3 separate regions of the Homo sapiens genome follow, and regions 1 and 2 are each linked to region 3. Evidence: fine-mapped expression QTL. A gene starts in region 3. Each other region holds a variant in brackets. All regions are shown on one strand. Distances are between the middles of the regions. Region 1 overlaps RAB1B (RAB1B, member RAS oncogene family). Region 2 has its middle 14 kb from the start of EIF1AD. Region 3 holds the start of CATSPER1 (cation channel sperm associated 1).

Region 1 (8,000 bases), 250 kb before region 3:
GACCCCACACCTCTGCCGTGTGCCCCGCGGGAGTTGGCGGCGGCACGCCAGGTATGAGCTGATGGCCGCCTGCCTCTTTCCCTGACAGAACGGTGCTGGGCCCTTGGGGACAGACCACAGAAGCACAAGCAGCTTTCCTGGCCTCAGGAAACGGGGTCAAGGGCTTTTGCCAGCAGCCTTAGGACACAGAAACCAAGCCAGGACCCCCGTGCACCCCACCAAGCCCAGGGTTCCAGTTCCATCCCCCCACCCCAAGGCTGGGCTTAGACCACAGACCACACTTGGCCACCACAACTTCCTTGCAAAAACCCTCAGCTCACCCGAGGGCCAATGGAAATTTATTAATTTTTTTTGTCCTTTTCCATCTTTCCCCAAGTGGCTTTTCCTTGCAAAATGCCTGACATGACACCAGAGGGGAACCTGGGAGCGGGGGGCACCCCAAGGGGGCAGCCCAGGGACTTAAATACAAGCTGGAGGGCAGGGCACAGGTGGGACAGGCAAGAGACAGCACGAGGGACATGGCTTCTCAGGGAGACCAAAGACTTGCTTTCTTGCAGGAAGCAGCTGTGCCAGAGGGCAGGGGACTAGGATCCTGGGTGCAGAGTGGGTGAGCAGAGAGGCCCCCAATCCTGGATGGAACCCACATTCCCCAGAGAAGTAGCGGCAGGGGATGAGGGCCTTCCCTGGTGGGCTCCAGAGACGGAGTGGGGAGTGAGCCAGATGTGCTACCTTGGGGAAAGGGAGGAGGTGCTAGCAGAGTGAGGGTTAAGGCTGGTGCCCAGCCTCTGGCACGGTGGGCCTTCCGCCTCCGCCTGACATGGGGACAAAGGGGCACGGTGGGCAGGCAGCGCATGGGTCTGTCTCTGGCAGGGCAGAGGGCGGCAGGAGCAGACTCCCTCCAGGCTCAAGACACAGGCCCAGCACTGCTACCCGCCCACCCGCCCTAGATATACTCAGATCCCACCGCAGCTGGACGGCTCGAGCTGGGAGTGTAGGAAGGGAGAGGAGGCAGTGGGGAGAGGAAAGGGTGGGCTGCTGGGCCCCTGTGGCCTCCATGCCTGTCCTGAGGTCCAGCCCAGGGCCCTGGATCCCAGGTCCTGGATCCCCTGGCCACATTCCTCGCCCTGGGCACTGACTGCAGCCAGGGCAGTAGAGGCCGGGGAGACCCTCAGTTCTTGGGCAGGACAGCAGGAAGAAGAAGGAGAGAACCCAGTGCAGCATACATGGGGGTGGGAGGGACACCGACAGAAGAGCCCTCGTTCCAAAGAAAGGTGTGTAGGGGGGCATCTTGGAAAGTCACCTAGAGGCAACAGCACAGCAGGCCTCCGCCCTGCCTGGCCACAGGCCCTGAGTGTCCTCCCTTAGGGACCCTGACAGAACCGGGGCTCAGGGCAGCAGGCAGATGGGCCAGAAGGAGATGGGGAGCCCAGGACACCCCAAAGCCACAGACTCAAATGCCCCAGGAGAGGGAGAGGGAGGTACCTCCTGCCCCCTCCAGGGACATCATCTGGAGAAGGTGCCCCCTCCTGTCCCACTCCATGTGCCCCTCCTAGCAACAGCCACCGCCAGCCGGCTTTACAGGGGTGCTGTCGATCTTGAGATTGGGCCGCTCGCCCCCAGAGGCTGCTCCAGGCCCCATCCGCTTTTTGATTTCAGCAGCCATGGTCATGAACGCCTGCTCGACATTGGTGGCATTCTTGGCGCTCGTCTCCAAGAAGGGGATGCCCAGAGAGTCTGCAAACTCCTGACAAGGGAGAGGAGAGAAGAGGAGGGGAGAGAAGAGGAGGGGAGAGCAGGTGAGGGGCAGCAGGCCCCAGCGCCCCGACCCCGGGCAGACCGGCCCGTCTGCTACCTTGGCTGTGGTGTTGTCCACCACCTTCTTGGTGGTGAGGTCGCTCTTGTTGCCCACCAGGAGCTTATTGACGTTCTCGCTGGCATAGCGGTCAATCTCCTGCAGCCACTGCTTCACGTTGGCGTAGGATTCCTAAAGGGGGCCAGGGGCCAAAGTTATTTTGCTCCCAACTGTCACCCCTACCCCAGGCCTGGAGAAGACCTTCTCTGAGGGGAACAGTACAGCTCCGGGCCCCTTAAGTCCTGGGCTCAGCGATGCAGAGATGCAGAGGAAGCCCTCTGCTCCAGGCTGAACCTTCCTCCCTGCCCTCTTCCATCCGAGACCCAGAACAGCCCCAGCAGCCTGCCAGCTGCCCCAACACCTCAACAGCTGCCCCAACTTGGGCCTGCCAGCTCTGCTCCCTGCAGCTGTCTCTCTCCCTGAGACACTTGCAGGCCCTAACCACATGTGAGAAGCAAAGAGAGAGCGGACGGGAGATAGGAACAGAGAGTAACGGGTCCGCAAGAGCCACAGTTCCCACCGTGGCCTGAAAATCCCTTTAAGGTTTGAAGCCTTGGAGCACAGGAGTTCGAGGGTCCTCTCAGAGGTGGCCCTGGCCTGTGGGGAGACAGGAATCCTGGGAACAGCCTAAAATTCATCCTACTTTTGGCACCAACAGCCTCATTACTTGGCTTCAGACTCTCCCAGCACTTGCGCCCCTACCCCACACACAAAGGACAGGACTTTCAGGAAAGTGCTCAAGCTAGGGCCACTTATACTCCTTAGGAGCCAGAAGCCTGGTCATATCACACTGGCTCAAACTTAGACCTCTTGCCATGTTCCAAGTTGGGTCCTGTGCTAAGTGCTGGGGACAAAGGGGGAAATCATACTTGGGCCCTGCCCTAACACATTCACGGGACAGTAGATGAATAGACCAGGCCACACACAAGGGCAAAACAGGTTAGAAGGCAGGGGCTGGGGAGCCCCCAGACCACCTCTGCTTGAGGTGGGAGCAACAGTGGACCTAAGCCTGCAGGTGGGAACTGGCCTTGTGCAGGAGAGGTGCCAGCTGGGGAGCCAGCATGTGCCAGGTCACTGAACGGGAGGGGCATGGTGTGTCTGGGGAATGGGAGGAAATGGAATGTTGCTGGGATGCAGACACTCAACAGGGAGGGGGGACAGGGAGGGGGAATGGGGGAGTGGGGAGGAGAAAGGCAAGAGGGGAGAGGGGGAAGAGGGGAGGAAAGAGGGGGGATTGGGGAGAGGCCAGAGCACAGACTGTCTTAGCATGGCTAAGTCTTGGACTTAGACCAGGAGCCAGTGGGCGTTTCTTAGGCCAGAAGCAACAGGATCACACCTATGCTAGTCCTGACAGGAGGCAGAGCCCAGATCAGAATAGCAAGATAGAGACCAACTGGGAATGGCTGGAATAACTCAGGGAAGAGAACGTGCACTGAGCCAGGGAAGCACACAGGATTTAGTCAGACCACTGCTGCTGAAGGCCTGGCTCAGCCATTTACTGTGTGACC[C/T]CAGGTATGTTACCTGACCACTCTGAGCCTCAGTTTCCTCATTTCTATAAACAGTACCTCCTAGAAGGGCTGATTGTGAGCATGAAGAGAATGAACACAGGCTTGTCTCATAACAAGTGCTTAATTGGCAAGAGCTGCTATTATCCTCATCACTGCTATTATTATGAGGGGACAGATTTCAGAAAGATGATGGGGAGAGAATAGAGGGGACTCGAGACTGACTGGATGGGGGAGGGAAGAGTTTTCTGGTCAGGCTGACAAGGATTGTGTCACAAAGATGGGGATGCAGCTGGGGCATGGTGGTGTGTGTCTATAGTCCCAGTGACTTAGGAGACTGAAGCAGGAGGATCCCTTAAGCCCAGGAGGTTGAGGTTACAATGAGCTATGATCACACCACTGCACTGCAGTCTGGGTGACAGAGTGAGACCCCATGTCTTAAAATAAATAAAAATATTAAAAATGGGGATAGAGGCGCTGGTTTGGGGAGAGACAGTGAGGCCAGCGCTGGACATCTGAGTTCTGCAGAGGCTGCTTGAGGGTGGGAAAGGGTGTGCTCAAAAGCCAAGAGCCCTCCAAAACTGGCTTTGCCCTTCCCGTGAGACCGGTGGCAAGTTACTTAACACCTCTCCAAGCAAGTTTCCTCATCTAGAAAACACAAACCTCACCATTTAGTTTACTAGAGAAGATCATGAAGATCAGGATTAATACAGACACAAAGTGCCAGTGTAGACATGGACAGAGGAGGGAAGCCACAGCCACGGCTGTTAGATGCAGGAATCACAGAACACAAGGCAGAAGCAAACCACAGAGTGGCCGCAGCCATGCACAAGAGTAAGGAGGAGAGTCCAGGGCAGTGGGGAAGCACCAAACACAGGGTGATGGGAGGCAGCACTGGACAGACCAGCAAATAGACACTGACAATAGAGAATCGAGTGCTGCAGGAGACTGAGGAGCGGGGGATGGTCCACTTTTCAAGGAGAGAGAAGAGAGCAGTGTCCAAAGCCACGAGAGGTCAATGTGCTGAAATAAGATCACTGGATATATGGCAGTCAGGTGGGCCCTGGTAACTTGTCTGGGTGGTATGTAGCTTCCCCACAGCTCGTCCAGAGCTGGGGACATCATGAGTCCCTGGTGAGCTAAAGAGCCCGGCTGCTCCTCAGACAGGGACTCTTCCCGGCCCACGGCTGATTTAAGCTTCTCCTTATCTTCAGGGATTGGCCCTGTTAAGCAACAACATTTGGTAGAAAAAACAAAGCAGGTGGAATGAGCCATCCAGGCTTTCTGCCTCTGCCACCGGACTAGCTGAAGGACCCTCGGCAAGTCACCTCACCATCCTGAGCCCAGCTCCTTACCTGTGCGATGGGAACACAGACCTCTTCTGAGCATCAGAGGCAATCTGAGGGCTGGGCCAGGTTCTGTAAACTATAAGGTTTCATGGAACCATTTCCAGCCCTTGCTACCACCACTGCTAGTCACATGGGACTAACGCTGCTGCTGGAGGCAGAGCTTCTGGATCTCTGCTCACATTGGGCCCAGAGCTCAAGCTTCCCTGCTTCTTTGTCTAAGGCCCTCTAATTGTCCCCCTGCACTGTGTCTTCACACAGGAAGCCACAGGCCCAGCATAGCAGCCAACCGCCTGACTAAACTCCCACAACACAAAGGTGCCCAGAAGGTCTACAATAAGGTGGCAAGTTTGGCTTGGTGGGGAGGGAAGGTGTGAGGCCTTGTCCTGCCAGAACCTGCAGCAGGGCCTTCAGAGGATCCATTTCTGTGGCTGTTTCCCTCCTTGTGAAATGAGTCCAAGTACAGTCACCTATTTTTTTTCTTTTTCCTAGTTAGTTCCTGTAAGCAGACAAATAGTGTCCTTTCCAGGAAGCATCAGGAAAGAGAGGATGGAAGGAGGAAAAAGAAGAGTCAAAGACCTAAGGCTAAGGAGGCCAAGCTGAGGATGGCTAGTCCAGGAGTACCTGGTCAGTGACGTCATACACCACGATGATGCCATGAGCCCCCCGGTAGTAGCTGGAAGTGATGGTCCGGAACCGTTCCTGGCCCGCTGTGTCCCACTAGGAGACAGTAGGCAGAGGAGCAGGTCAGCTGAGGTCCAGAGTCCCAGAGTCCCTTCCCTCCCAAGGTGGATACCTCTGTACTGGGGATTTTGGGAAGAGCGACACTCACGATCTGAAGTTTGATAGTTTTGCCATCCAGCTCGATGGTTCGGATCTTGAAGTCCACCCCGATGGTGCTGATGTAGCTCTCTGTGTACGTGTCATCCTGAAAGTTCAGGGGCCAATGAAATCATGGGAGTTAATGAGGTGAGGCCCACTTGGAGAGCCTCCCTCCAGTTCCCTGCCCCAGCTGGGTCTCCGAACCACCAAGCCCCAATTCCCAGCACTCAGCTGGCCAGCCCTGTCTTGTTCAGGGCAGATGTGCTGGTGGCAGGTCTTACAGCTTCACCCCTGGTTCCCAGATCTTGCAACTACTGTGCTCTGTGTTGTCCCTTCTCCCCCCAGCTGCCAGTCAGGACCCCAGGTGGATGGTATGGGAGGCTTCTTACTCACAGCAAACCGCAGGAGCAGGCATGACTTGCCCACGCCTGAGTCGCCAATCAAAAGCAGCTTAAACAGGTAGTCACTGGAGAGAGAAGATGGGAAGGCGTGAAGGGAGGCAGGGAGCCCACCTACCATCATCCTGGAGTCACAATTACAGGATTCCCCCACCCCATGAGGCATCCCTTGGTTTATTTTTATTTTTTTTTTAGCAATAAGGTCTCACTCTGTCACCCAGGCTACAGTGCACTGAAGTGATCACGGCTCATTGCAGCCTCTACCTTGCGGGCTCAAAGTGATCTTCCCACCTCAGCTTCCTGCGTAGCTGGGACTTCAGGTGTCCACCACCACCACCACTTCTAGCTAATTTTTTTTTTTTTTTTTTTTTTTTTTGAGACTGAGTTTTGCTCTTGTTGCCCAGGCTGGAGTGCAATGGCGCGATCTTGGCTCACTGCAACCTCTGTCTGCCGGGTTCAAGCAATTCTCCTGCCTCGGCCTCCCGAGTAGCTGGGATTACAGGCACCTGCCACCATGCTTGTCTAAGTTTTGTATTTTTAGTAGAGACAGGGTTTCACCATGTTGGCCAGGCTGGTCTCGAACTCCTGACCTCAGGTGATCCACCTGCCTTGGCCTCCCAAAGTGCTGGGATTACAGGTGTGAGCCACCACACCCGGCCCCTGGCTAATCTTTTCATTTTTTGTAGAGATGGGGTCTCACTATGTTGCCCAGGCTGGTCTCAAACTCCCGGGTTCAATTGATTCACCTGCCTTGGCCTCTGAAAGTGCTGGGATTACAGGGGTGAGCCACTGCGCCTGGCCATCCCTTGGTTTAGAATACTATGGTGCTCACCAGATCTTCCCAACAGTCCCGGTCAGGGAGGGCTGATGCCTCCCTCCACAAACAGCTAGCCCAAAGGGCTCTCAGCTTGCTGAGTCTAAATTCTCACTTTATGGAGAAAGAAATCAAGACACGTGACCTGCCAAGGCAACAGAGCTGGGTATCCTAACCTGATTTCTGAAACTTCATGGTTTGGTCCAGTAGGAGCTATTTAGGGAATCCCCAGTACATGCCCTGCGTGTGCCTAGCTTGGCAGAGAAGGCCCCAGAAGTAGAAGCCAGGGCCCAGCCTAGAACCTATTAAGTTGAAAACCCACGTAGAGAGACTGATGGCTGGGTGCTGTGGCGTGTGCCTGTGGTTCCAGCTACTGGGGAGGCTGAAACAGGAGGAGGATCCTTGGAGCCTAGGAGTGTATGACCAGCCTGGGTGATGCAGCACAACCCCGTCTCTCTTTTCTTTTGTTTTTTCGAGACAGAGTCTCGCTCTCTCACCAGGCTGGAGTGCAGTGGCACGATCTCGGCTCACTGCAACGTCCGACTCCCTGGTTCAAGTGATTCTCCTGTCTCACCCTCCAGAGTGGCTGGGATTACAGGCATGCGCCACCATGACTAGCTAATTTTTGTATTTTTAGTAGAGACGGGATTTCACCATGTTGGCCAGGATGGTCTCGATCTCCTGACCTCGTGATCCACCCACCTCGGCCTCCCAAAGTCCTGGGATTACAGGCCTGAGCCACCGCACCCGGCTAACCCCATCTCTTTGGAGACAACAACAACAACAACAACAACAACAACAACAACAACAACAACAAAAACCTGTTATGAAGTCACCAGGAAGAGGTGGTCAAGTTGCAGTGAAAATTGCACTTAAGGCTGGGTGCAGTGACTGACACCTGTAATCCCAACACTTTGGAAGCCCGAGGCACGAGAATCATTTAAGCCCAGGAGTTTGAGATCAGGCTGGGAAACATATCGAGACCCTGTCTTTACAAAAAATTAAAAAATGTGCCAGGTGTGGTGGTGTGCCTCTGTATTCCCAGCTACTCAGGAGGACAAGGCAGGAGGACTGCTTCAGCCCAAGAGTTGGAGACTGCAGTGAGCCATCGTCACGCCACTGCACTCCAGCCTGGGTGACAGAGAGAGACCCTGTCTCAAAATAAAAAAAAAAAAAGGCAAAAGGTAATCACATTTAATATACTTGAGTTCCAACCTGTGGACGGACCCTGTGTGAAGTACTTTAAATGCATCATCTCATTTA
Region 2 (8,264 bases), 38 kb after region 3:
AGGGAGCACAGATGGCAGTCTGAGCTCACCACATGGTTTTCCTCTTCTAATCTGTAAATGTGGTGGAGTATCATAACATTCTCTCACGTTAAGATATCCTTGCATTCCTGGAAGAAGACAGTCACAATGGATTTGTTATTATACTGCCGGATTTGGTTCTCTGGTATTTTGGCATCCAGGTGTATAGGTGAAATGGTTTAAGGTTTTCCTTTTCCGTACTGCCCCCACCCTTTGTTTTGTATCAAGGTTATACCAGCTTCATATAAATAAGTTGGAAAGTGTTTTCCCTTTATTTTCATTACGAGAGTTTGTATAAGATTGGAATTTTGCATTTCTACAATTTTTGGTAAAGCTTGCTGTAAAACCAACCATGCCTGGCGATTTTTTGGGTGGGTGGGTAGGTAGGTTTGGAATTAGATTGTCAGTGGTAATAGATTACTCAGGTGTTCTGTTCTTCAGTCATATTTTCAAGGAAAAATATTTTCATGTTATTTATTTATTTATTTATTTTTGAGACAGGATCTTGCTCTGTCGCCCAGGCTGGAGTGCAGTGGCCCCATCTCGGCTCACTGCAACCTCCGCCTCCCGGGTTCAAGTGATTCTCCTGCCTCAGCCTCCCGAATAGCTGGGATTACAGGTATGTGCCACCATGGCCGGCTAATTTTTGTATTTTTAGTAGAGATGGGGTTTCACCATGTTGGCCAGGCTGGTCTCAAACTCCCGATCTCAGGTGATCTGCCCACCGCAGCCTCCCAAATTGCTGGGGTTACAGGCGTGAGCCACCACACCCAGCCCCCATATTTTCTCATGTTTGCTATGGCTTCAAACTTACTGGCGCAAAGTTATTTGTATGATTGCCTTATGTTTGTAATCTTGGCTGTATCCAAAGTTATGTCCCCCTTTTTACATGTAATATTGTTTATTTGTGCCTTCTCTCTGTTATAGCTGGTCAATCTTGGCAGAAGGTCATTATTAGTCTTTTCTAAGCACCAGCTTTTTGTTGTCATTCTTTGTATTGGTATTTCATTAATTGCTGCTCTTACCGTATTTCCCACTTATACTCCCTTTGTTTTTGTTTGTTTTTGTTTTTTTCTCATAACCAATGGGAAACAAACCAATCCCTCTGGGTTTATCCTGTAGTTCTTTTTCTTTTTCCTTTCTTTGTTTTGTTTTGTTTTGTTTTGTTTCTGAGATGGAGTCTTGCTCTGTCACCCAGGCTGGAGTGCAGTGGTGCAATCTCAGCTCACTGCAACCTGTGCCTCACAGGTTCAAGCCATTCTTCTGCCTCAGCCTCCTGAGTAGCTGGGATTACAGGCGCCCACCACCACGCCTGGCTAATTTTTATATTTTAGTAGAGACGGGGTTTCAGCATGTTGACCAGGCTGGTCTCGAACTCCTGACCTCAGGTGATCCACCCGCCTCGGCCTCCCAAAATGCTGGGATTACAGGCGTAAGCCACTGAGTCTGGCCTATATTTAAACATTTTGGCTGGGCATGGTGGCACATGCCTGTAATCCCAGCTACTTGAAAGGCTGAAGGGAAAGGATTGCTTAAGCCCTTGAGGAGTTTGAGGCCAGCCTGGGTGACATAGTGAGACTCCCTTTCAATAAAAAATTAAAAGTCAAGAATAATTAAATATTTGGTTGGTTATTTTTAATAATGTGAGCAGCTTCAAACCCACCACCATAAAATAAAGGCTAGGACTTTAACAATAACCCAAGTAACATACTCCACCTCCCATCCTACCCTGACCAGCCCATTCTCTGCTGTCCCACCCAAGGCAACCATTGTCCGAATTCCATGTGCACTTTTTTTCTTTTTACATGGTTTGCTTTATTTTTATTTATTTTTATTTATTTATTTATTTACTTACTTACTTACTTTTTGAGATGGAGTCTCGCTCTTGTCGCCCAGGCTGGAGTGCAATTGTACGATCTCAGCCCACTGCAACCTCCGCATCCAGGGTTCAAGCAATTCTCCTGCCTCAGCCTCCCGAGTAGCTGGGATTACAGGCCTGCACCACCACACCCAGCTAATTTTTTTTGTATTTTTAGTAGAGATGGGATTTCACCATGTTGGCCAGGCTGGTCTCGAACTCCTGCCCTCAGGTGATCCACCCGCCTTGGCCTCCCACAGTGCTGGGATGACAGGTGGTGAGCCACCGTGCCCGGCCTGGTGCTTCGTCTTTAGTAGTTGCCCAGTTGTCTCCCAGGAAAGTGACTTGGGCCACAGAACCGTGGGTTTTGTCTTCATTCAAGGCCCAAACATCTCTACTGACCTGTGTCTGAGAAGCACACAGAGAAGTGTGGGCAGTTTCCTCAGTGGGAGCCGCCCTCAGAAAATCACTGATGAAGCAAGAAGTCAGGACACCACGGACACCACCAGCAGTTCATGCTGTGCGTGTGTTTGATCCACTGGTGACATTTGCAAGAGAATCCAAAAGCCCCTGTGGGAGGTGTGGAGGCATGCCGTATGCCTCATCTGGTGACACTGAGGAATGAAGAATTAGCAGTACAGGCTGGGCGCGGTAGCTCACGCTTGTAATCCCAGCACTTTGGGAGGCCAAGGCAGGTGGATCACCTGAGATCAGGAGTTCGAGACCAGCCCGGCCAACTGGTGAAACCCTGTCTCTACTAAAAAAATACAAAAATTAGCTGGGTGTGGTGGTGCACGCCTGTCATCCCAGCTACTTGGGAGGCTGAGATAGGAGAATCGCTTGAACCCAGGAGGGGAGGCAGAGGTTGCAGTGAGCCGAGATGGCGCCACTGTACTCCGGCCTGGGCAAGAGCAAGACTCCAACCAAAAAAAAAAAAAAAAAGAACTAGCAGTGCCCAGGGCTGTACACCAGGTGCCAGTACTGGCAGCAATTCTTCCAGTTATTGTGATAGATTCTCATGACGCTAAAATACCCACTTTGTTATTTAACCCTTGCTAATCCACAATGAGTTGCCAAGTACCAGAATCCTTTGTTACTAACCAGACCAGGCTGTTCATTCTTGAACAGCATTGGGCATCACTTTGTTTTAATAATTCTTGTATGAGAAGAGCACTCTTTTCCTTCTGATAGCAATGTGGCTCCAACTACTGGCTGATGTGAGACGGTACCGGCAGTTCCTGGCTGTGTATTCTGCCAACATTTAGAGAAGCCACCAGCAGAGGTCACCCTAAGCACGTAAAACCAGCAAGTCAGCACCTTGCCTTGGGCTACAGAACCCGAAAGCATCTAACCTAGTTACAGTCTCATAAGGGAACTGCATTCTTGGTCCAATCAAAGGGTCCACATGCCCCAACAGCAGTTAGGATGCTGGTAGACCACTGCGAACACAAGTTCCACTCCCCCAGAGATGGATTCACTCACCAAGGCATGATCAGAAGTGGCCTTCCTCCCCAGCAGCATTTACAAGCTGGAGTACAGTGCTTGGAGGGTGGTGGGGAACTGCCCTGGTTTTTTTGTTTTTTGGGGGACCCAGTTTCACTTTTCTTGCCCAGGCTGGAGTGCACTGGCGCGATCTTGGCTCACCGCAACCTCCGCCTACTGGATTCAAGCGATTCTCCTGCCTCAGCCTCCCAAGTAGCTGGGATTACAGGCACGCACCACCACGCCTGGCTAATTTTGTATTTTTAGTAGAGATGGGGTTTCTCCATGTTGGTCAGGCTGGTCTTGAACTCCCGACCTCAGGCGATCTGCCCGCCTTGGCCTCCCAAAGTTTTGGGATTACAGGCGTGAACCACCGCGCCTGGCCGCCCTGGTCTTTCAGTTAGAAAGCACCCAAATTGAGGTGCAGGAGGACTCACATGGAGGTGTCTGTGGCTGTGTCCCCCAGAAACCCTGCTCTGGACAAGGATGAGGTACCCCTGTAGTTAATGTCTGAGGATTCAGGGAGCCTTGGACCTGGTAGATGGGCAGCAAGGAGGGGCTGGTAAGACCTAAGAACTGCAGCCTCTGGAAGGGTCGTCTCCCCAGGGCCCCTCAGCACATGTATTCAGCTCCCCTTCTAGTGACTGCTGAAGCTTTCAGGCCTTTGGGGGTTTTGCCTCCCTGCGTTCTTCTCTGAAGGCTCCAAGTGCCTTCTTTCATGTGGGTCTCCCATCCGCTTTGTGTCTGCCATAATTTAGCTTTCGACAATGGAGTTCTGTCTTATCGATCCTACTCACGATCTATGGCCACATCTTTCCTTCCTCGCGCCCTCCCTTCCTTCCTTGCTTCGTGATCTCGGCTCACTGGAACCTCTGGCTCCTGGGTTCAAGAGATTCTCCTGCCCCAGCCTCCTGAGTAGCCGGGATTACAGGCACCTGCCACCACGCCTGCCTAATTTTTTGTATTTTTAGTAGAGACGGGGTTTCTCCATGTTGGTCAGGCTGGTCTTGAACTCCTGACCTCAGGTGATCCACCCGCCTCAGCCTCCCAAAGTGCTGGGATTACAGGCGTGAGACACTGCGCCCGGCCCACACATTCCTTTTTTGGGGGGGTGGGCCGCAGGAGACCTGCCCATCTGTCCTGCTTCTTGCTTCTCCCTTTCACTTTGTCCAGGGCTGACAAATCAGCCGTTTCTGAGGAGCCCTCCTGTCTGCCTCCTTCCCCAGGTGGGGTGTGCATTGGCACAGAAGGGCTGTTTTGCTTCTCTCACTGCCCCTGAACAGGTGCCTGAGGAGGGAAAGGCCTGGGACCCAAGGCAGAGCAGGTGGCGTGCTGTGTCTGTTGGGCAGGGGCGAGGTGGGGAGGACACTGGCAAGGCTCCTTAAGGCCGGGGGGTACGGGGCTCAGGGACTCGGAGAATCAGCATGCAATGACAGCATCGATGTGTCCGGGGCTCAGGGAGAGGGAAGTGGGACCCAGCCTGATCTGAGTGGAGACCCTGAGTGGGGCCAACTCCGTCTTCCCAGTGTGTTTGGGCTTTGGAGACATGCCCAAGGCAGGACAGCTTTGATTCTCACCACAGCCCTGGGGG[C/A]CACGACGGCTGTCTCCTCCCTACACCATGGTGAAGACATTCAGACCAACAGAATATAGGAGTTTATCACCAGCAGACAGAAGGAACTTCTAGAAAACAAACTTCAGAAACAATGAGAAGATTTGGCTATCAGTATTTTATTAATATCATAAAATATGTTAAGAGCGCTTACCATCTTTTTCTCTGATCTGGAGTAGTTTAAATAGCATTTGAATGATCTATTATCTAAAGGTAAAGCCTTTAGATAATAACCTTTTTTTTTTTTTTTTGACGGAGTCTCACTCTGTCACCCAGGCTGGAATACAATGGCACCATCTCAGTTCACTGTAGCCTCCGCCTCCCAGGCCCCAAGCAATTCTCCTGCCTCAGCCTCCTGAGTAACTAGGATTACAGGTACCTGCCACCATTCCCGGCTAATTTTTGTATTTTTAGTAGAGACAGGGTTTCGCCATGTTGGCCAGGCTGGTCTTGAACTCCTGACCTCAGGTGATCCGCCCACCTTGGCCTCCAAAAGTGCTGGGATTAAAGGTGTGAGCCATGGTGCCGGTCAATAAACTTTTGAAGCTTTAAAAACATCTAGGCTTGGTGCCTTTTTTGATGCGTCAAAAAATAACCGCAGCAAAGATTTACGTTGTTTTTAGTTTTGGAAGCTCTTTATTAGAAGGCACCGTAGTGGGAAGACAGCAAGTTACAGGCCTGGGAAATGAAGAACCTTACAGAAGAGAGGAAGGAGAAGGCAAAACCAGTGAGCTAGTTCCTTATGCCATATGTGAGTCACCATAGGAAGAGTTTATGAACTTTCACTCATTCTCATGCTGGCCTTTTTTTTTTTTTTTTTTTTCTTTTGGAGACGGAGTCTCGCTCTGTCGCCCAGGCTGGAGTGCAGTGGCGCGATCTCGGCTCACTGCAAGCTCCACCTCCCGGGTTCACGGCATTCTCCTGCCTCAGCCTCCCGAGTAGCTGGGACTACAGGCACCCGCCACCACACCCGGCTAATTTTTTGTAGTTTTAGTAGGGATGGGTTTTCACTGTGTTAGCCAGGATGGTCTCGATGTCCTGACCTCGGGATCCGCCCGCCTCAGCCTCCCAAAGTGCTGGGATTACAGGCGTGAGACATTGCGCCCAGCCATGCTGGCCATTTTTTATATTTATGTCATTATTTAAAACGATGCTTTTTTTTTTGACAGAGCCTCACTCAGTCACCCAGGCTGGAGTGCAATGGCACCATCTCGGCTCACTGCAACCTCCACCTCCCAGGTTAAAGTGATTCTTGTGCCTCAGCCTCCTGAGTAGCTGGGACTATTGGCACACACCACCATGCCCAGGTAATTTTTAAAATTTTTTTGTAGAGACAGGGTCTTGCTTTGTTACCCAGACTGCTCTAGAACTCCTGGCTTCAAGCAATCCTCCCACCTTGGCCTCCAAAAGTGTTGGAATTACAGGCATGAGTGACCGCACCCAGCCTTCTATACTGCTTCTAATAGAATAAAAGAATTTTTCCAGATTTTGTATTAAATGGAAGCAAACAGTATGTATAATTTCATGTCCATGAGGTTCATCCATGTTACTCATTCGGTTATATGAATGTCTACCCTTTGTTGATTTTTTTTTTAGAGACAGAGTCTCACTCTGTCACCCAGGCTGGGGTGCAGTGGCCATTCACAAGTGTGAGGATAGCTCACTGCAGCCTCAAATTCCCAGGCTCAAGCAATCCTTTGCCTCAGCCTCCCGGGTAGCTGGGACTACAGATACAGGCATGAGCCACCACACCCAGCTAAATTTAAAAAATATTTTTAGAGGTGGGTCTCACTATGTCACCAGGCTGGTCTTGAACTCCTGGCCTCAAGGGATCCTTAGCCTCCCCAGTAGCTGGGATTACAGGCACTAAGAACCATGCCCGGCTATTTATTCATTCTTCTGTTAATGGACATTTGGGTTGTTTCCAGTTTGGGGCTGTTATAAATAGTGCTGTTAAGAACATTCTTGTTCATGTCTTTAGCTGAACATATGTATGCTTTTCTGTTGCTAAGCCAACATGTTCTTGTTCTCTCTTTTTAAACAAAGTTCTATAATGGAAATTTTCAAACATACTCAAAAGTAGATAGAATGGAATAATGAATCCCATTGTACCTGTTACACAGCTTCAGTTTTCTTTTCTTTGTATTTTTTGGTTTTTTTCTGAGACAGGGTCTTGCTCTGTCGTCCAGCCTGGAGTGCAATGCATGATCCTAGAACACTGCAGTCTCCAACTCCTCCTGCCTCAACCTCCTGAGTAGCTGGGACTGCAGGTGCATGCCACCATGCCTGGCTGATTTTTAAATTTTTTGTAGAGATGGGGATCTCGCAATGTTGCCCAGGCTGGTCTCCAGCTCCTAGCCTCAAGCAATCCTCCTGCCTCGGCCTCCCAAAGTGCTGTGATTACATGCACGAGTCACCATGCCCAGCCAATATCATCATTATTATTACTAACAATAAGACTATTAAATGTGTTTAAGATTTCATTATGTTAATTTAAAAATTTTTAAATAGATATCCTACTAGGGATGTGAGGTCAAAATATTCTATCTTAAAATCTTTTGAAATAATTCTGGTTGGGTGTGGTGGCTCATGGCCAGAACTGCAATGGGTGCAGTTGCCTGAACTGAATCCTTTTGCTAAAACCTACTATCGGCTGGGTGTGGCTAGTACTGCAATCCCAGCACTTCGGGAAGCTGAGGCAGGAGAATTGCTTGAGCCCAGGAATTTTGAGACCAGCCTGGGCAACATAGCAAGACCCTGTCTTTGCAAAAAAATTAGCCAGACATGATAGCATGCAGCTGTGGTCCCAGCTACTCAGGAAGCTGACGTGGGTGGATCACTTGAGCCAGGAGGTCAAGGCTGCAGCTAGCCATGTTTGTACCACTGTACTCCAGCCTGGGCGACACAGTGAGACCTTGTCTTAAAAAAAGTAAAAAGGATATTACTAGGCTGGTGACCTGCTAGTGGTGGCCGCAGATGGAGAGGCTTCCCTTGGCAATGATTTAGTAGGGTGGGATGGGAGTGGGGCTGGGCCCAGAGATGCTGACCCCCTTTGTACCATTGAGTGAAGCCAGTAAACCTGCCCCACCCCAGGCATACCCCCTTCTATGAGGTACACCCAGCCCCCTACTCACCCTGACCAGCCTGGGGAGTGAGAGTGCCCACTGCTCATCAAGGTGGAAGGCAGAACTCATCAGCTTGTAGTCAATGCAGTACCTGCAACAAAGCTGCTCCAATCCAGAATGCACCCGAGGGAGAAAGATGTCTGAAGTCCTCATAGCTGTCTCATCTGCAAAG
Region 3 (8,252 bases):
ACCATGTCGGCTCACTGCAACCTCCGCCTCCCAGGATCAAGCGATTCTCCCACCTTGGCCTCCCAAGTAGCTGGGATTAGAGGCACCCGCCACCACACCCAGCTAATTTTTGTATTTTTAGTAGAGACAGGGTTTCACCATGTTGGCCAGACTGGTCTCGAACTCCTGACCTCAGGTGATCCTCCTGCCTCAGCCTCCCAAAGTTCTGGGATTACAGTCGTGAGCCACCACGCCCAGCCTGCCTGGCCACATTTTTTAAATTTTATTTTATATATTTTTTTGAGACGGAGTCTCGCTCTGTTACCCAGGCTGGAGTGCAGTGGCGCCATCTCGGCTCACTGCAAGCTCCGCCTCCCGGGTTCACGCCATTCTCCTGCCTCAGCCTCCCAAGTAACTGGGACTACAGGCGCCCGCCACCACGCCCGGCTAATTTTTTGCATTTTTAGTAGAGATGGGGTTTCACTGTGTTAGCCAGGATGGTCTTGATCTCCTGACCTCCTGATCCACCCACCTCGGCCTCCCAAAGTGCTAGGATTACAGGCATGAGCCACTGCGCCCAGCCTGCCTGGCCAGTTTTTAAAACATTTTCAAGTGAGTGAGTCTTTGTTGAATAAAGGCAAACGTTTTGCTCCATCATTACTTTTCATCTCCAAGAGTTTCTGACACCAGTGCCTCTCTGTGAAGAAAGCAGTGTGTTGTGACAACATCAAGTTTTTGTTTGTGGTTTTGTTTCTTTCCAAGAACAGTAAAAATTCTTATGGAGCTAACCACTGATTTGAACCATCAGTATAAATGCCAAGGTAGTTCTTCCAAGACAGACTTTTTGATGATTCCTGATATGAAATGACATTAAATCTATCTTGGCTTTTTGTTTGTTTGGAAAAGCTGAAACATTTTCTCGATGATCATGCTGACCATTTACAGATCTTACTAGTGCTATGGCGTGGTAAGCATTCACCATTTTATTGGTGAAATAAGTTGACTCATCAGCCAGGATAAAGATTATGTTGTGGCCGGGTGTGGTGGCTCACGCCTGTAATCCCAGCACTTTGGGAGGCTGAGGCGGGCGGATCACGAGGTCAGGAGATCAAGACCATCCTGGCTAACATGGTGAAACCCCATCTCTACTAAATATACAAAAAATTAGCCGGGCGTGGTGGCGGGCTTCTGTAGTCCCAGCTACTCGGGAGGCTGAGGCAGGAGAATGGCGTGAACCCAGGAGGCGGCATTGCAGTGAGCCAAGATCGCGCCACTGCACTCCAGCCTGGGCGACAGAGGGAGACTCTGTCTCAAAAAAAAAAAAAAAAAAAAGCAAGTTGTTTTTCAGTTTATTATCAAGAAAACAAAAACGAAAACCTGTTCAGTATCAGAGATCATGTCATCAACATGTGAGGTTGTTGTTCTCTCTCAGGGTAGAGTCTTCTCTTTTTCTTTCTTTCTTTCTTTTTTTTTTTTGAGATGGAGTTTCGCTCTTGTTGGAATGGTGTGATCTCAGCTCACTGCAACCTCCGCCTCCTGGGCTCAAGCAATTCTCATGCCTCAGCCTCCCAAGTTCCCAAGCAGCTGGGACTACAGGCGCACACCACCACATCCAGCTAATTTTTTGTATTTTAGTAGAGACAGGGTTTCACCATGTTGCCCAGGCTGGTCTCAAACTCCTGAGCTCAGGCGATCCACCCGCCTTGGCCTCCCAAAGTGCTGGGATTACAGGTGTGAGCCACCATGCCCAGCCCACACAAATTGTTTCTTTGTCTGCTGCTGGCAACAGATAGTGAGCTCCTTAAAACAGGAGCCGTGTCTCTTTCATCACTGGGAACCCAGCAGCCACTATGGACATGGCTCTGACCAAGCACTCAAGAAGCTGAGACCCATAAGCTTCCAGAAGAGCTGCGCTGTGCACATATGAATTCAGCATACAGGGCAAGCTCTGCAGTGGATTCCAGGAGGAAGACAGGACAGCATGAAGGTTACAGATACAGACTTGGAGTGAGATAGCACTGACGGTAAGTTTTCATTCATCAAGCAACTCATTTATATTCTCTGAGCCATAGCACCTTTGTCTGTCAAATGGGGATAAACAATATCTACCATGTGGGGCTATTGTGAGGATTAAATTTAATGTGTATGGGCCGGGCACGGTGGCGCATGCCTGTAATCCCAGCACTTTGGGTTGTCGAGGCGGGCAGATCGTTTGAGATCAGGAGTTCGAGACCAGCCTGACCAACAGGGTGAAACCCCATCTCTACTAAAATACAAAAGAAGTTAGCTGGGCGTAGTGGTGCACGCCTGTACTTTCAGCTACTTGGGAGACTGAGGCAGGAGAATTGCTTGAATTCAGGAGGTGGAGGTTGCTGTGAGCTGAGACCATGCCACTGCACTCCACCCTAGGTGACAGAGCAAGACTGTGTCTCAAAAAAAAAAAAAGAAAGAAAGAAAACAAAATGTGTATGAAGCAATCCTCAATAAATGATGGCTGATAGTTTAATTTTGGTAATAACCCTAAAGGGGGGTTCCAAGATCAAGAAGAGAATAATAATGCCAATTAACATGTATTGGCCAGGCATGGTGGCTCACACCTGAAATCCCAGCACTTAGGGAGTGCGAGGTGGGTGGATCATTTGAGGTCAGGAGTTCAAGAGCAGCCTCGTCAACATGGTGAAACCCCGTCTCTACTAAAAATACAAAAATTAGCTGGGTGTGGTGTGCACCTGTAGTCGCAGCTACTAGGAAAGCTGAGGCAGGAGAATTGCCTGAACCCAGGAGGCAGAGATTGCAGTGAGCCAAGATTGCACCCCGGCACTCCAGCCTAGTGACAGAGTAAGACTCTGTCTCAAAAAAAAAAAAAAAAAAATTAGCCGGGGTGGGGTATGGTGGTGGGTGGCTGTAATCCCAGCTACTCAGGGGGCTAAGGCAGGAGGCTCACTTGAACCTGGGAGGCAGAGATTGCCATGAGTGGAGATCATGCCGCTGCACTCCAGCCTGGGTGACAGTGAGACTGTCTCAAAAAACAAAAACAAAAACAAAAAAACATGGGCTGGGCGCAGTGGCTCACACCTGTAATCCCAACACTTTGGAAGGGCAAGGCAGGCGGATCACGAGGTCAGGAGATCAAGACCATTCTGGCTAACATGGTGAAACCCCGTCTCTACTAAAAATAGAAAAAGTTAGCCGGGCGTGGTGGTGGGCGCCTGTAGTCCCAGCTACTTGGGAGGCTGAGGCAGGAAAATGGCATGAAGCTGGGAGGTGGAGGTTGCAGTGAGTCAAGATCGTGCCACTGCACTCCAGCCTGGGCGACAGAGCGAGACTCCATCTCAAAAACAAACAAAGAAACAAACAACAACAACAACAACAAAAACCATGTATTATGCTGTTAATATAAGGCTTACATATCTTAACTTTTTTGATCCTGTGGGCTAGGTATTATTATTCCCATTTTACAGAGGAAGAAACTGAGGCACGGGAAAGTTCAGCAACAAGCCCAAGGTCACACACCTACTTATGAGGGAGTCAGGCAGTCTTCACCCCAGAGCCAGCTGATCTCTAGATGGGACTGAAGACTGGACCACTTGGACCATTTTCTTTCCAACAACAGGGCTAAAGTAGCTGATGAAGCCATGGCGCCCCCATGGACTTCTTTGTCCAGCTTTGCCAGTGACCTGTGAGGTCACCTTGGTCTAGTCCTTCCCTTTTCTTGACCTCGGTTTCCTCATTTACAATGAAGGAGTTTGACACAATAATTCTTGATTCCGAACTATAGCCCAGGAAGAGGCATTTGGGAATGAGGCCCTGGCCTGCTGGTGACATCATAGAGGGGAGAGTTCCACGAGAATAGTCAGGCCTTTCTGGAAGCCCAGTGCCACAGTCTGCATTGAGCTTGGCTCAGGAAAGAAGGGAAATCCAGGCGGGGCCTGTTGGGCCCAGGTCTTGAGCTCTTTTGGCTCCAGAGTTCCCAGCACAGTCATGGATCAAAACTCAGTGCCTGAAAAGGCTCAGAATGAGGCAGACACCAATAACGCAGATAGGTTCTTTCGCTCTCACTCATCACCCCCACACCACAGGCCAGGCCACAGCAGAGCTCTCCACCATTACGAGTTGCACCATCACGGCGTGCCCCACCAACGTGGTGAATCTCACCACCCTCCGGAGTTCCAAGACTTCCACGACCAAGCCTTGTCCTCCCATGTCCACCAATCTCACCACCACAGCGAGGCACGGAATCACGGCAGAGCCCATGGCCCCACAGGCTTTGGTCTGGCTCCCTCTCAAGGCGCCGTCCCCTCCCACCGTTCCTACGGTGAGGACTACCATGATGAGCTCCAACGTGATGGCAGGAGGCATCATGATGGGTCCCAATACGGTGGGTTCCATCAGCAGAGTGACTCCCATTACCATAGGGGGTCTCACCATGGCAGACCCCAATATCTCGGTGAGAATTTATCCCACTATTCCTCTGGCGTGCCCCACCACGGTGAGGCTTCCCACCATGGTGGGTCCTACCTCCCCCATGGACCCAATCCCTACAGTGAGTCCTTCCACCACAGCGAGGCTTCCCACCTTAGCGGGCTCCAACACGATGAGTCCCAGCATCACCAAGTCCCCCACCGTGGCTGGCCCCACCATCACCAAGTCCACCACCATGGCAGGTCCCGTCATCATGAAGCCCACCAGCATGGAAAGTCTCCTCATCACGGAGAGACCATTTCCCCTCATTCCTCTGTGGGGTCCTACCAGCGTGGGATATCTGACTATCACAGCGAGTACCACCAAGGTGATCACCACCCCAGTGAGTACCACCATGGCGACCATCCCCACCACACACAGCACCACTACCACCAGACCCACCGGCACCGAGACTACCATCAGCACCAAGACCACCACGGCGCGTATCATTCCAGTTACCTCCATGGCGACTACGTCCAGAGCACTTCCCAACTCTCTATCCCACACACATCCCGGAGCCTGATTCACGATGCCCCCGGCCCTGCTGCTTCTCGTACAGGAGTCTTCCCCTATCACGTAGCACACCCACGGGGCTCGGCTCACAGCATGACTCGGTCCTCCAGCACAATCCGCTCACGTGTCACCCAGATGTCCAAAAAAGTCCATACCCAGGATATCTCCACCAAACATTCAGAAGACTGGGGCAAAGAAGAAGGGCAATTTCAGAAACGCAAAAGTGAGTCTTTGCTGGGCCCCCCATGCCAACTCCTGCTGCCTGGCGCAGGATCCAGACCTGATCTCGGCCCCGCACTGTCCTTCCGCAGATCGTAAGGCCCGACCCTCCTGCACAGGTCCCCCACTGGCTATTCACTCTCCTGACTGTTCATGGTCCCATCTTTTATTCCTTGAATTATGTACCTCTTTAGGCCATGAGGTGTTTGTTCATTCAGTCACTGCCTTATTTATTCATATGTCTACCAGTCAAACATTGATACTCATCCAATGTGGGTGTGTGGCCTGCCTGGGCCATGGCAGCATGGGGAAAAATTCAACACAGTCGCTGCCCTCGAGGGGCCCAAAACTAGGAGTGGTCACTTAGCTGACCACAGATCATCCTGTGCTCGGGGCCTGCCCTCAGAACATTTACCATGGTGGATTCTATCTGTCCAGATTTCTCCCACTCACCTGTGAGCTGCTTGAGAACAGAGATTAGGAACTAATGCCTGAATGAGGGCCTTATTGGAGGGCAAGGAGGGACCATGGCCTTTAGCTCATACGCCACCAAACTTTCTTCCTAGTAGTTCAATAAACATGACAACAGGCCAGGCGCGGTGACTCACGCCTGTAATCTCAGCACTTTGGGAGGCCGAGGTGGGTGGATCGCTTGAGGTCAGGAGTTCAAGACCAGCCTGGCCAACATGGCGAGATCCCGTCTTTACCAAAAAAATACAAAAATTAGCTGGGCGTGGTGGTGCACCCCTGTAATCCCAGCTACTTGGGAGGCTGAGGCAGGAGAATCGCTTGAACCCAGGAGGCAGAGGTTGCAGTGAGCCGAGATCGTGCCACTGCACTCCGGCCGGGGTGACAGTGCAAGACTCCGTAGGAAAAAAAAAAAAAAAAAAAAAAAACAAATAGGCTGGGTGCGATGGCTCACATCTGTAATCCTAACATTTTGGGAGTCCAAGGTAGGTAGATTGCTTGAGGTCAGGAGTTGGAGACCAGCCTGGCCAATATGGCAAAACCCTGTCTCTACCAAAAAAATACAAAAATTAGCCGGGTGTGGTGGTGCGTGCCTGTAATCCTGGCTACACAGGAGGGTGAGGCAGGAGAATCTCTTGAAGCTGGGAGGCGGAGGTTGTAGTGAGCCGAGATCACGATACTGCACTCCAGCCTGGGCAACAGAGCGAGACTCCATCTCAGAAAACAACAACAACAACAAACAAAATATGACAACAGTCTCAGGAACAAGCAGAGAGGGGCAAGTGTGTTATTAAATGGGGACAGGAAAGGCAGCCCAGAGGAGGGAACATTTCATCAGGACCTGAAAGGGAGAGGATAAGTTTACCAAGAGGATGGGATGATGAGGAGGGTGGGTTTTCCATATGTAAGTTGCCACGTGAGCAAAGAAAGGCATGGAGGCATAGGAGTGGGAGCCCTCAGGATCCCCAGAAGCCAACTCCAAATCCCCAACAGGCTGGCCCCTGCCACAGAAGGCACAGGACCAGCCTGTTGGGGATTTGCTGGCCAGGCTGGTCTCAAACTCCTGGCCTCCAGTGATCCGCCTGCCTCAACCTCCCAAAGTGCTGGGATTACAGGTGTGAGCCATTGCTTCTGGCCACAATTATGCCCATTTTAAAGACAACAAAACTGAGACATAGAGCAGTAGTGAAGTCGCGCAGCTGCTTACCCAGAGCTGGAGAGAGCCTGGGAATCCGGGCTTGTGTGAGGCTCATGCTGAGGAGAGAGAGGGCACTGGGTGCTGGGGACAGCCCTGAGCGCACCCCTGTGTCCCTGCAGAGTGGTACTTCATGGCCTTGGACTCCATATTCTTCTGCATCTACGTGGTGGAAGCCCTGGAGGCCAGGAGTTCGAGACCAGCCTGGCCAACATGTTGAAACCCTGTTTCTACCAAAAATACAAAAATTAGCCGGGCGTGGTGGCAGGCACCTGCAGTCCCAGCTACTTGGGAGGCTGAGGCACAAGAGTTGCTTGAACCCGGGAGGCAGAGGGCCAGCAAGCAGGCAGGAGTGACCATGGACGCTGAGCCAGGCTGGGGGGTGCCTGGGACCTCGTGTCCCCTCTTGCACACACTTGACTTTCTGGCCCTGTTCCTTTCAGCCGGCCGGCTCCAGCGGACCCGCAAGAAGGGACACTCTACCAATCTCTTCCAGTGGCTGTGGGAAAAGCTAACCTTCCTCATTCAGGGCTTCCGGGAAATGATCCGGAACCTGACCCAATCCTTGGCCTTTGAAACTTTCATCTTCTTCGTTGTCTGCCTCAACACCGTCATGCTGGTGGCCCAGACCTTCGCTGAAGTCGAGATCCGGGGCGGTAAGAGCCAGGGAGTCCTGTTCCCATGGAGAAGCCACCGATGCTCTTCCAGGACCTCCGTGGGCCTGATCCAGTGCCGGGCGGTTTATAGGACTCAGCTCACTTGATCCTCACCCCTGGGAAGTAGATGGCCTTACCCAGTATTAGAGAGCGTCTCAGAAAGACCCCGCTGAGGCCGGCCCGAGACAGAAGGACCCGCTAGGCGGGAGGCGGTGCTGTTCGCGCCGCAGCCACTAGGGAGCGCATCTGCTCCAAATGTGCGGCTGAGGGCGGGCGGGCGCCTGGAGCCCGAGCTTCGCGGAAGGGCCGGGAGCCCGAGAAGGCCCTGGAGGGGCGAGGATGTAAGGTCGGGGAAGGCTGGGCCCTCCAACGCCGTGGAGCAGGGTGAAGGACAGGAGCTGCCCGGCTCGCTGTCTCAGGCTCCATTCTAAGCACTTCGCTTGTGTTCATGCATTTAACGCTCACAACTCTATCAAGTGGACTTCAATTATCCCCATTTTATTTTATTTTATTTTAGACGGAGTCTGGCTCTGTCACCCAGGCTGGAGTGCAGTGGCGCGATCTCACTGCAACCTCCGCCTCCCGGGTTCAAGTGATTCTCCTGCCTCAGCCTCCCAAGTAGCTGGGACTACAGGTGCCCACCACCATGCCCAGCTAATTTTTGTATTTTTGGTAGAAACAGGGTTTCACCATGTTGGCCAGGCTGGTCTCGAACTCCTGACCTCCAGTGATGCGCCCGCCTCAACCTCCCAATGTGCTGG

What was found. PIP is the estimated chance that this variant, and not a neighbour inherited with it, causes the effect.
Region 1: its variant is fine-mapped to the expression of CATSPER1 in whole blood (TOPMed, PIP above 0.99).
Region 2: its variant is fine-mapped to the expression of CATSPER1 in whole blood (INTERVAL, PIP 0.96).

What each region holds. Positions count from the first base shown.
Region 1 is chr11:66,269,788-66,277,787 of GRCh38, reverse strand. It overlaps RAB1B (RAB1B, member RAS oncogene family), which reads right to left. Exons shown (of 6, transcript NM_030981.3): 2 at 5,919-5,991; 3 at 5,536-5,631; 4 at 5,328-5,423; 5 at 1,853-1,984; 6 at 296-1,744. The coding sequence ends at 1,550. LOC107984340 (a long non-coding RNA gene) reads left to right here. Exons shown (of 2, transcript XR_001748274.1): 2 at 5,196-5,631. Among named protein-coding and RNA genes, the nearest start is that of CNIH2, 4.4 kb to the left of the region's middle. RefSeq lists an enhancer at 4,703-5,902. The variant C/T (reference allele first, on the strand shown) is at 3,361.
Region 2 is chr11:65,984,026-65,992,289 of GRCh38, reverse strand. It overlaps the pseudogene LOC100420020. Among named protein-coding and RNA genes, the nearest start is that of EIF1AD, 14 kb to the left of the region's middle. RefSeq lists an enhancer at 2,859-2,928. The variant C/A (reference allele first, on the strand shown) is at 4,950.
Region 3 is chr11:66,022,088-66,030,339 of GRCh38, reverse strand. CATSPER1 (cation channel sperm associated 1) reads left to right here and starts at 3,861. Exons shown (of 12, transcript NM_053054.4): 1 at 3,861-5,176; 2 at 7,279-7,491. The coding sequence starts at 3,961. RefSeq lists an enhancer at 7,189-7,690.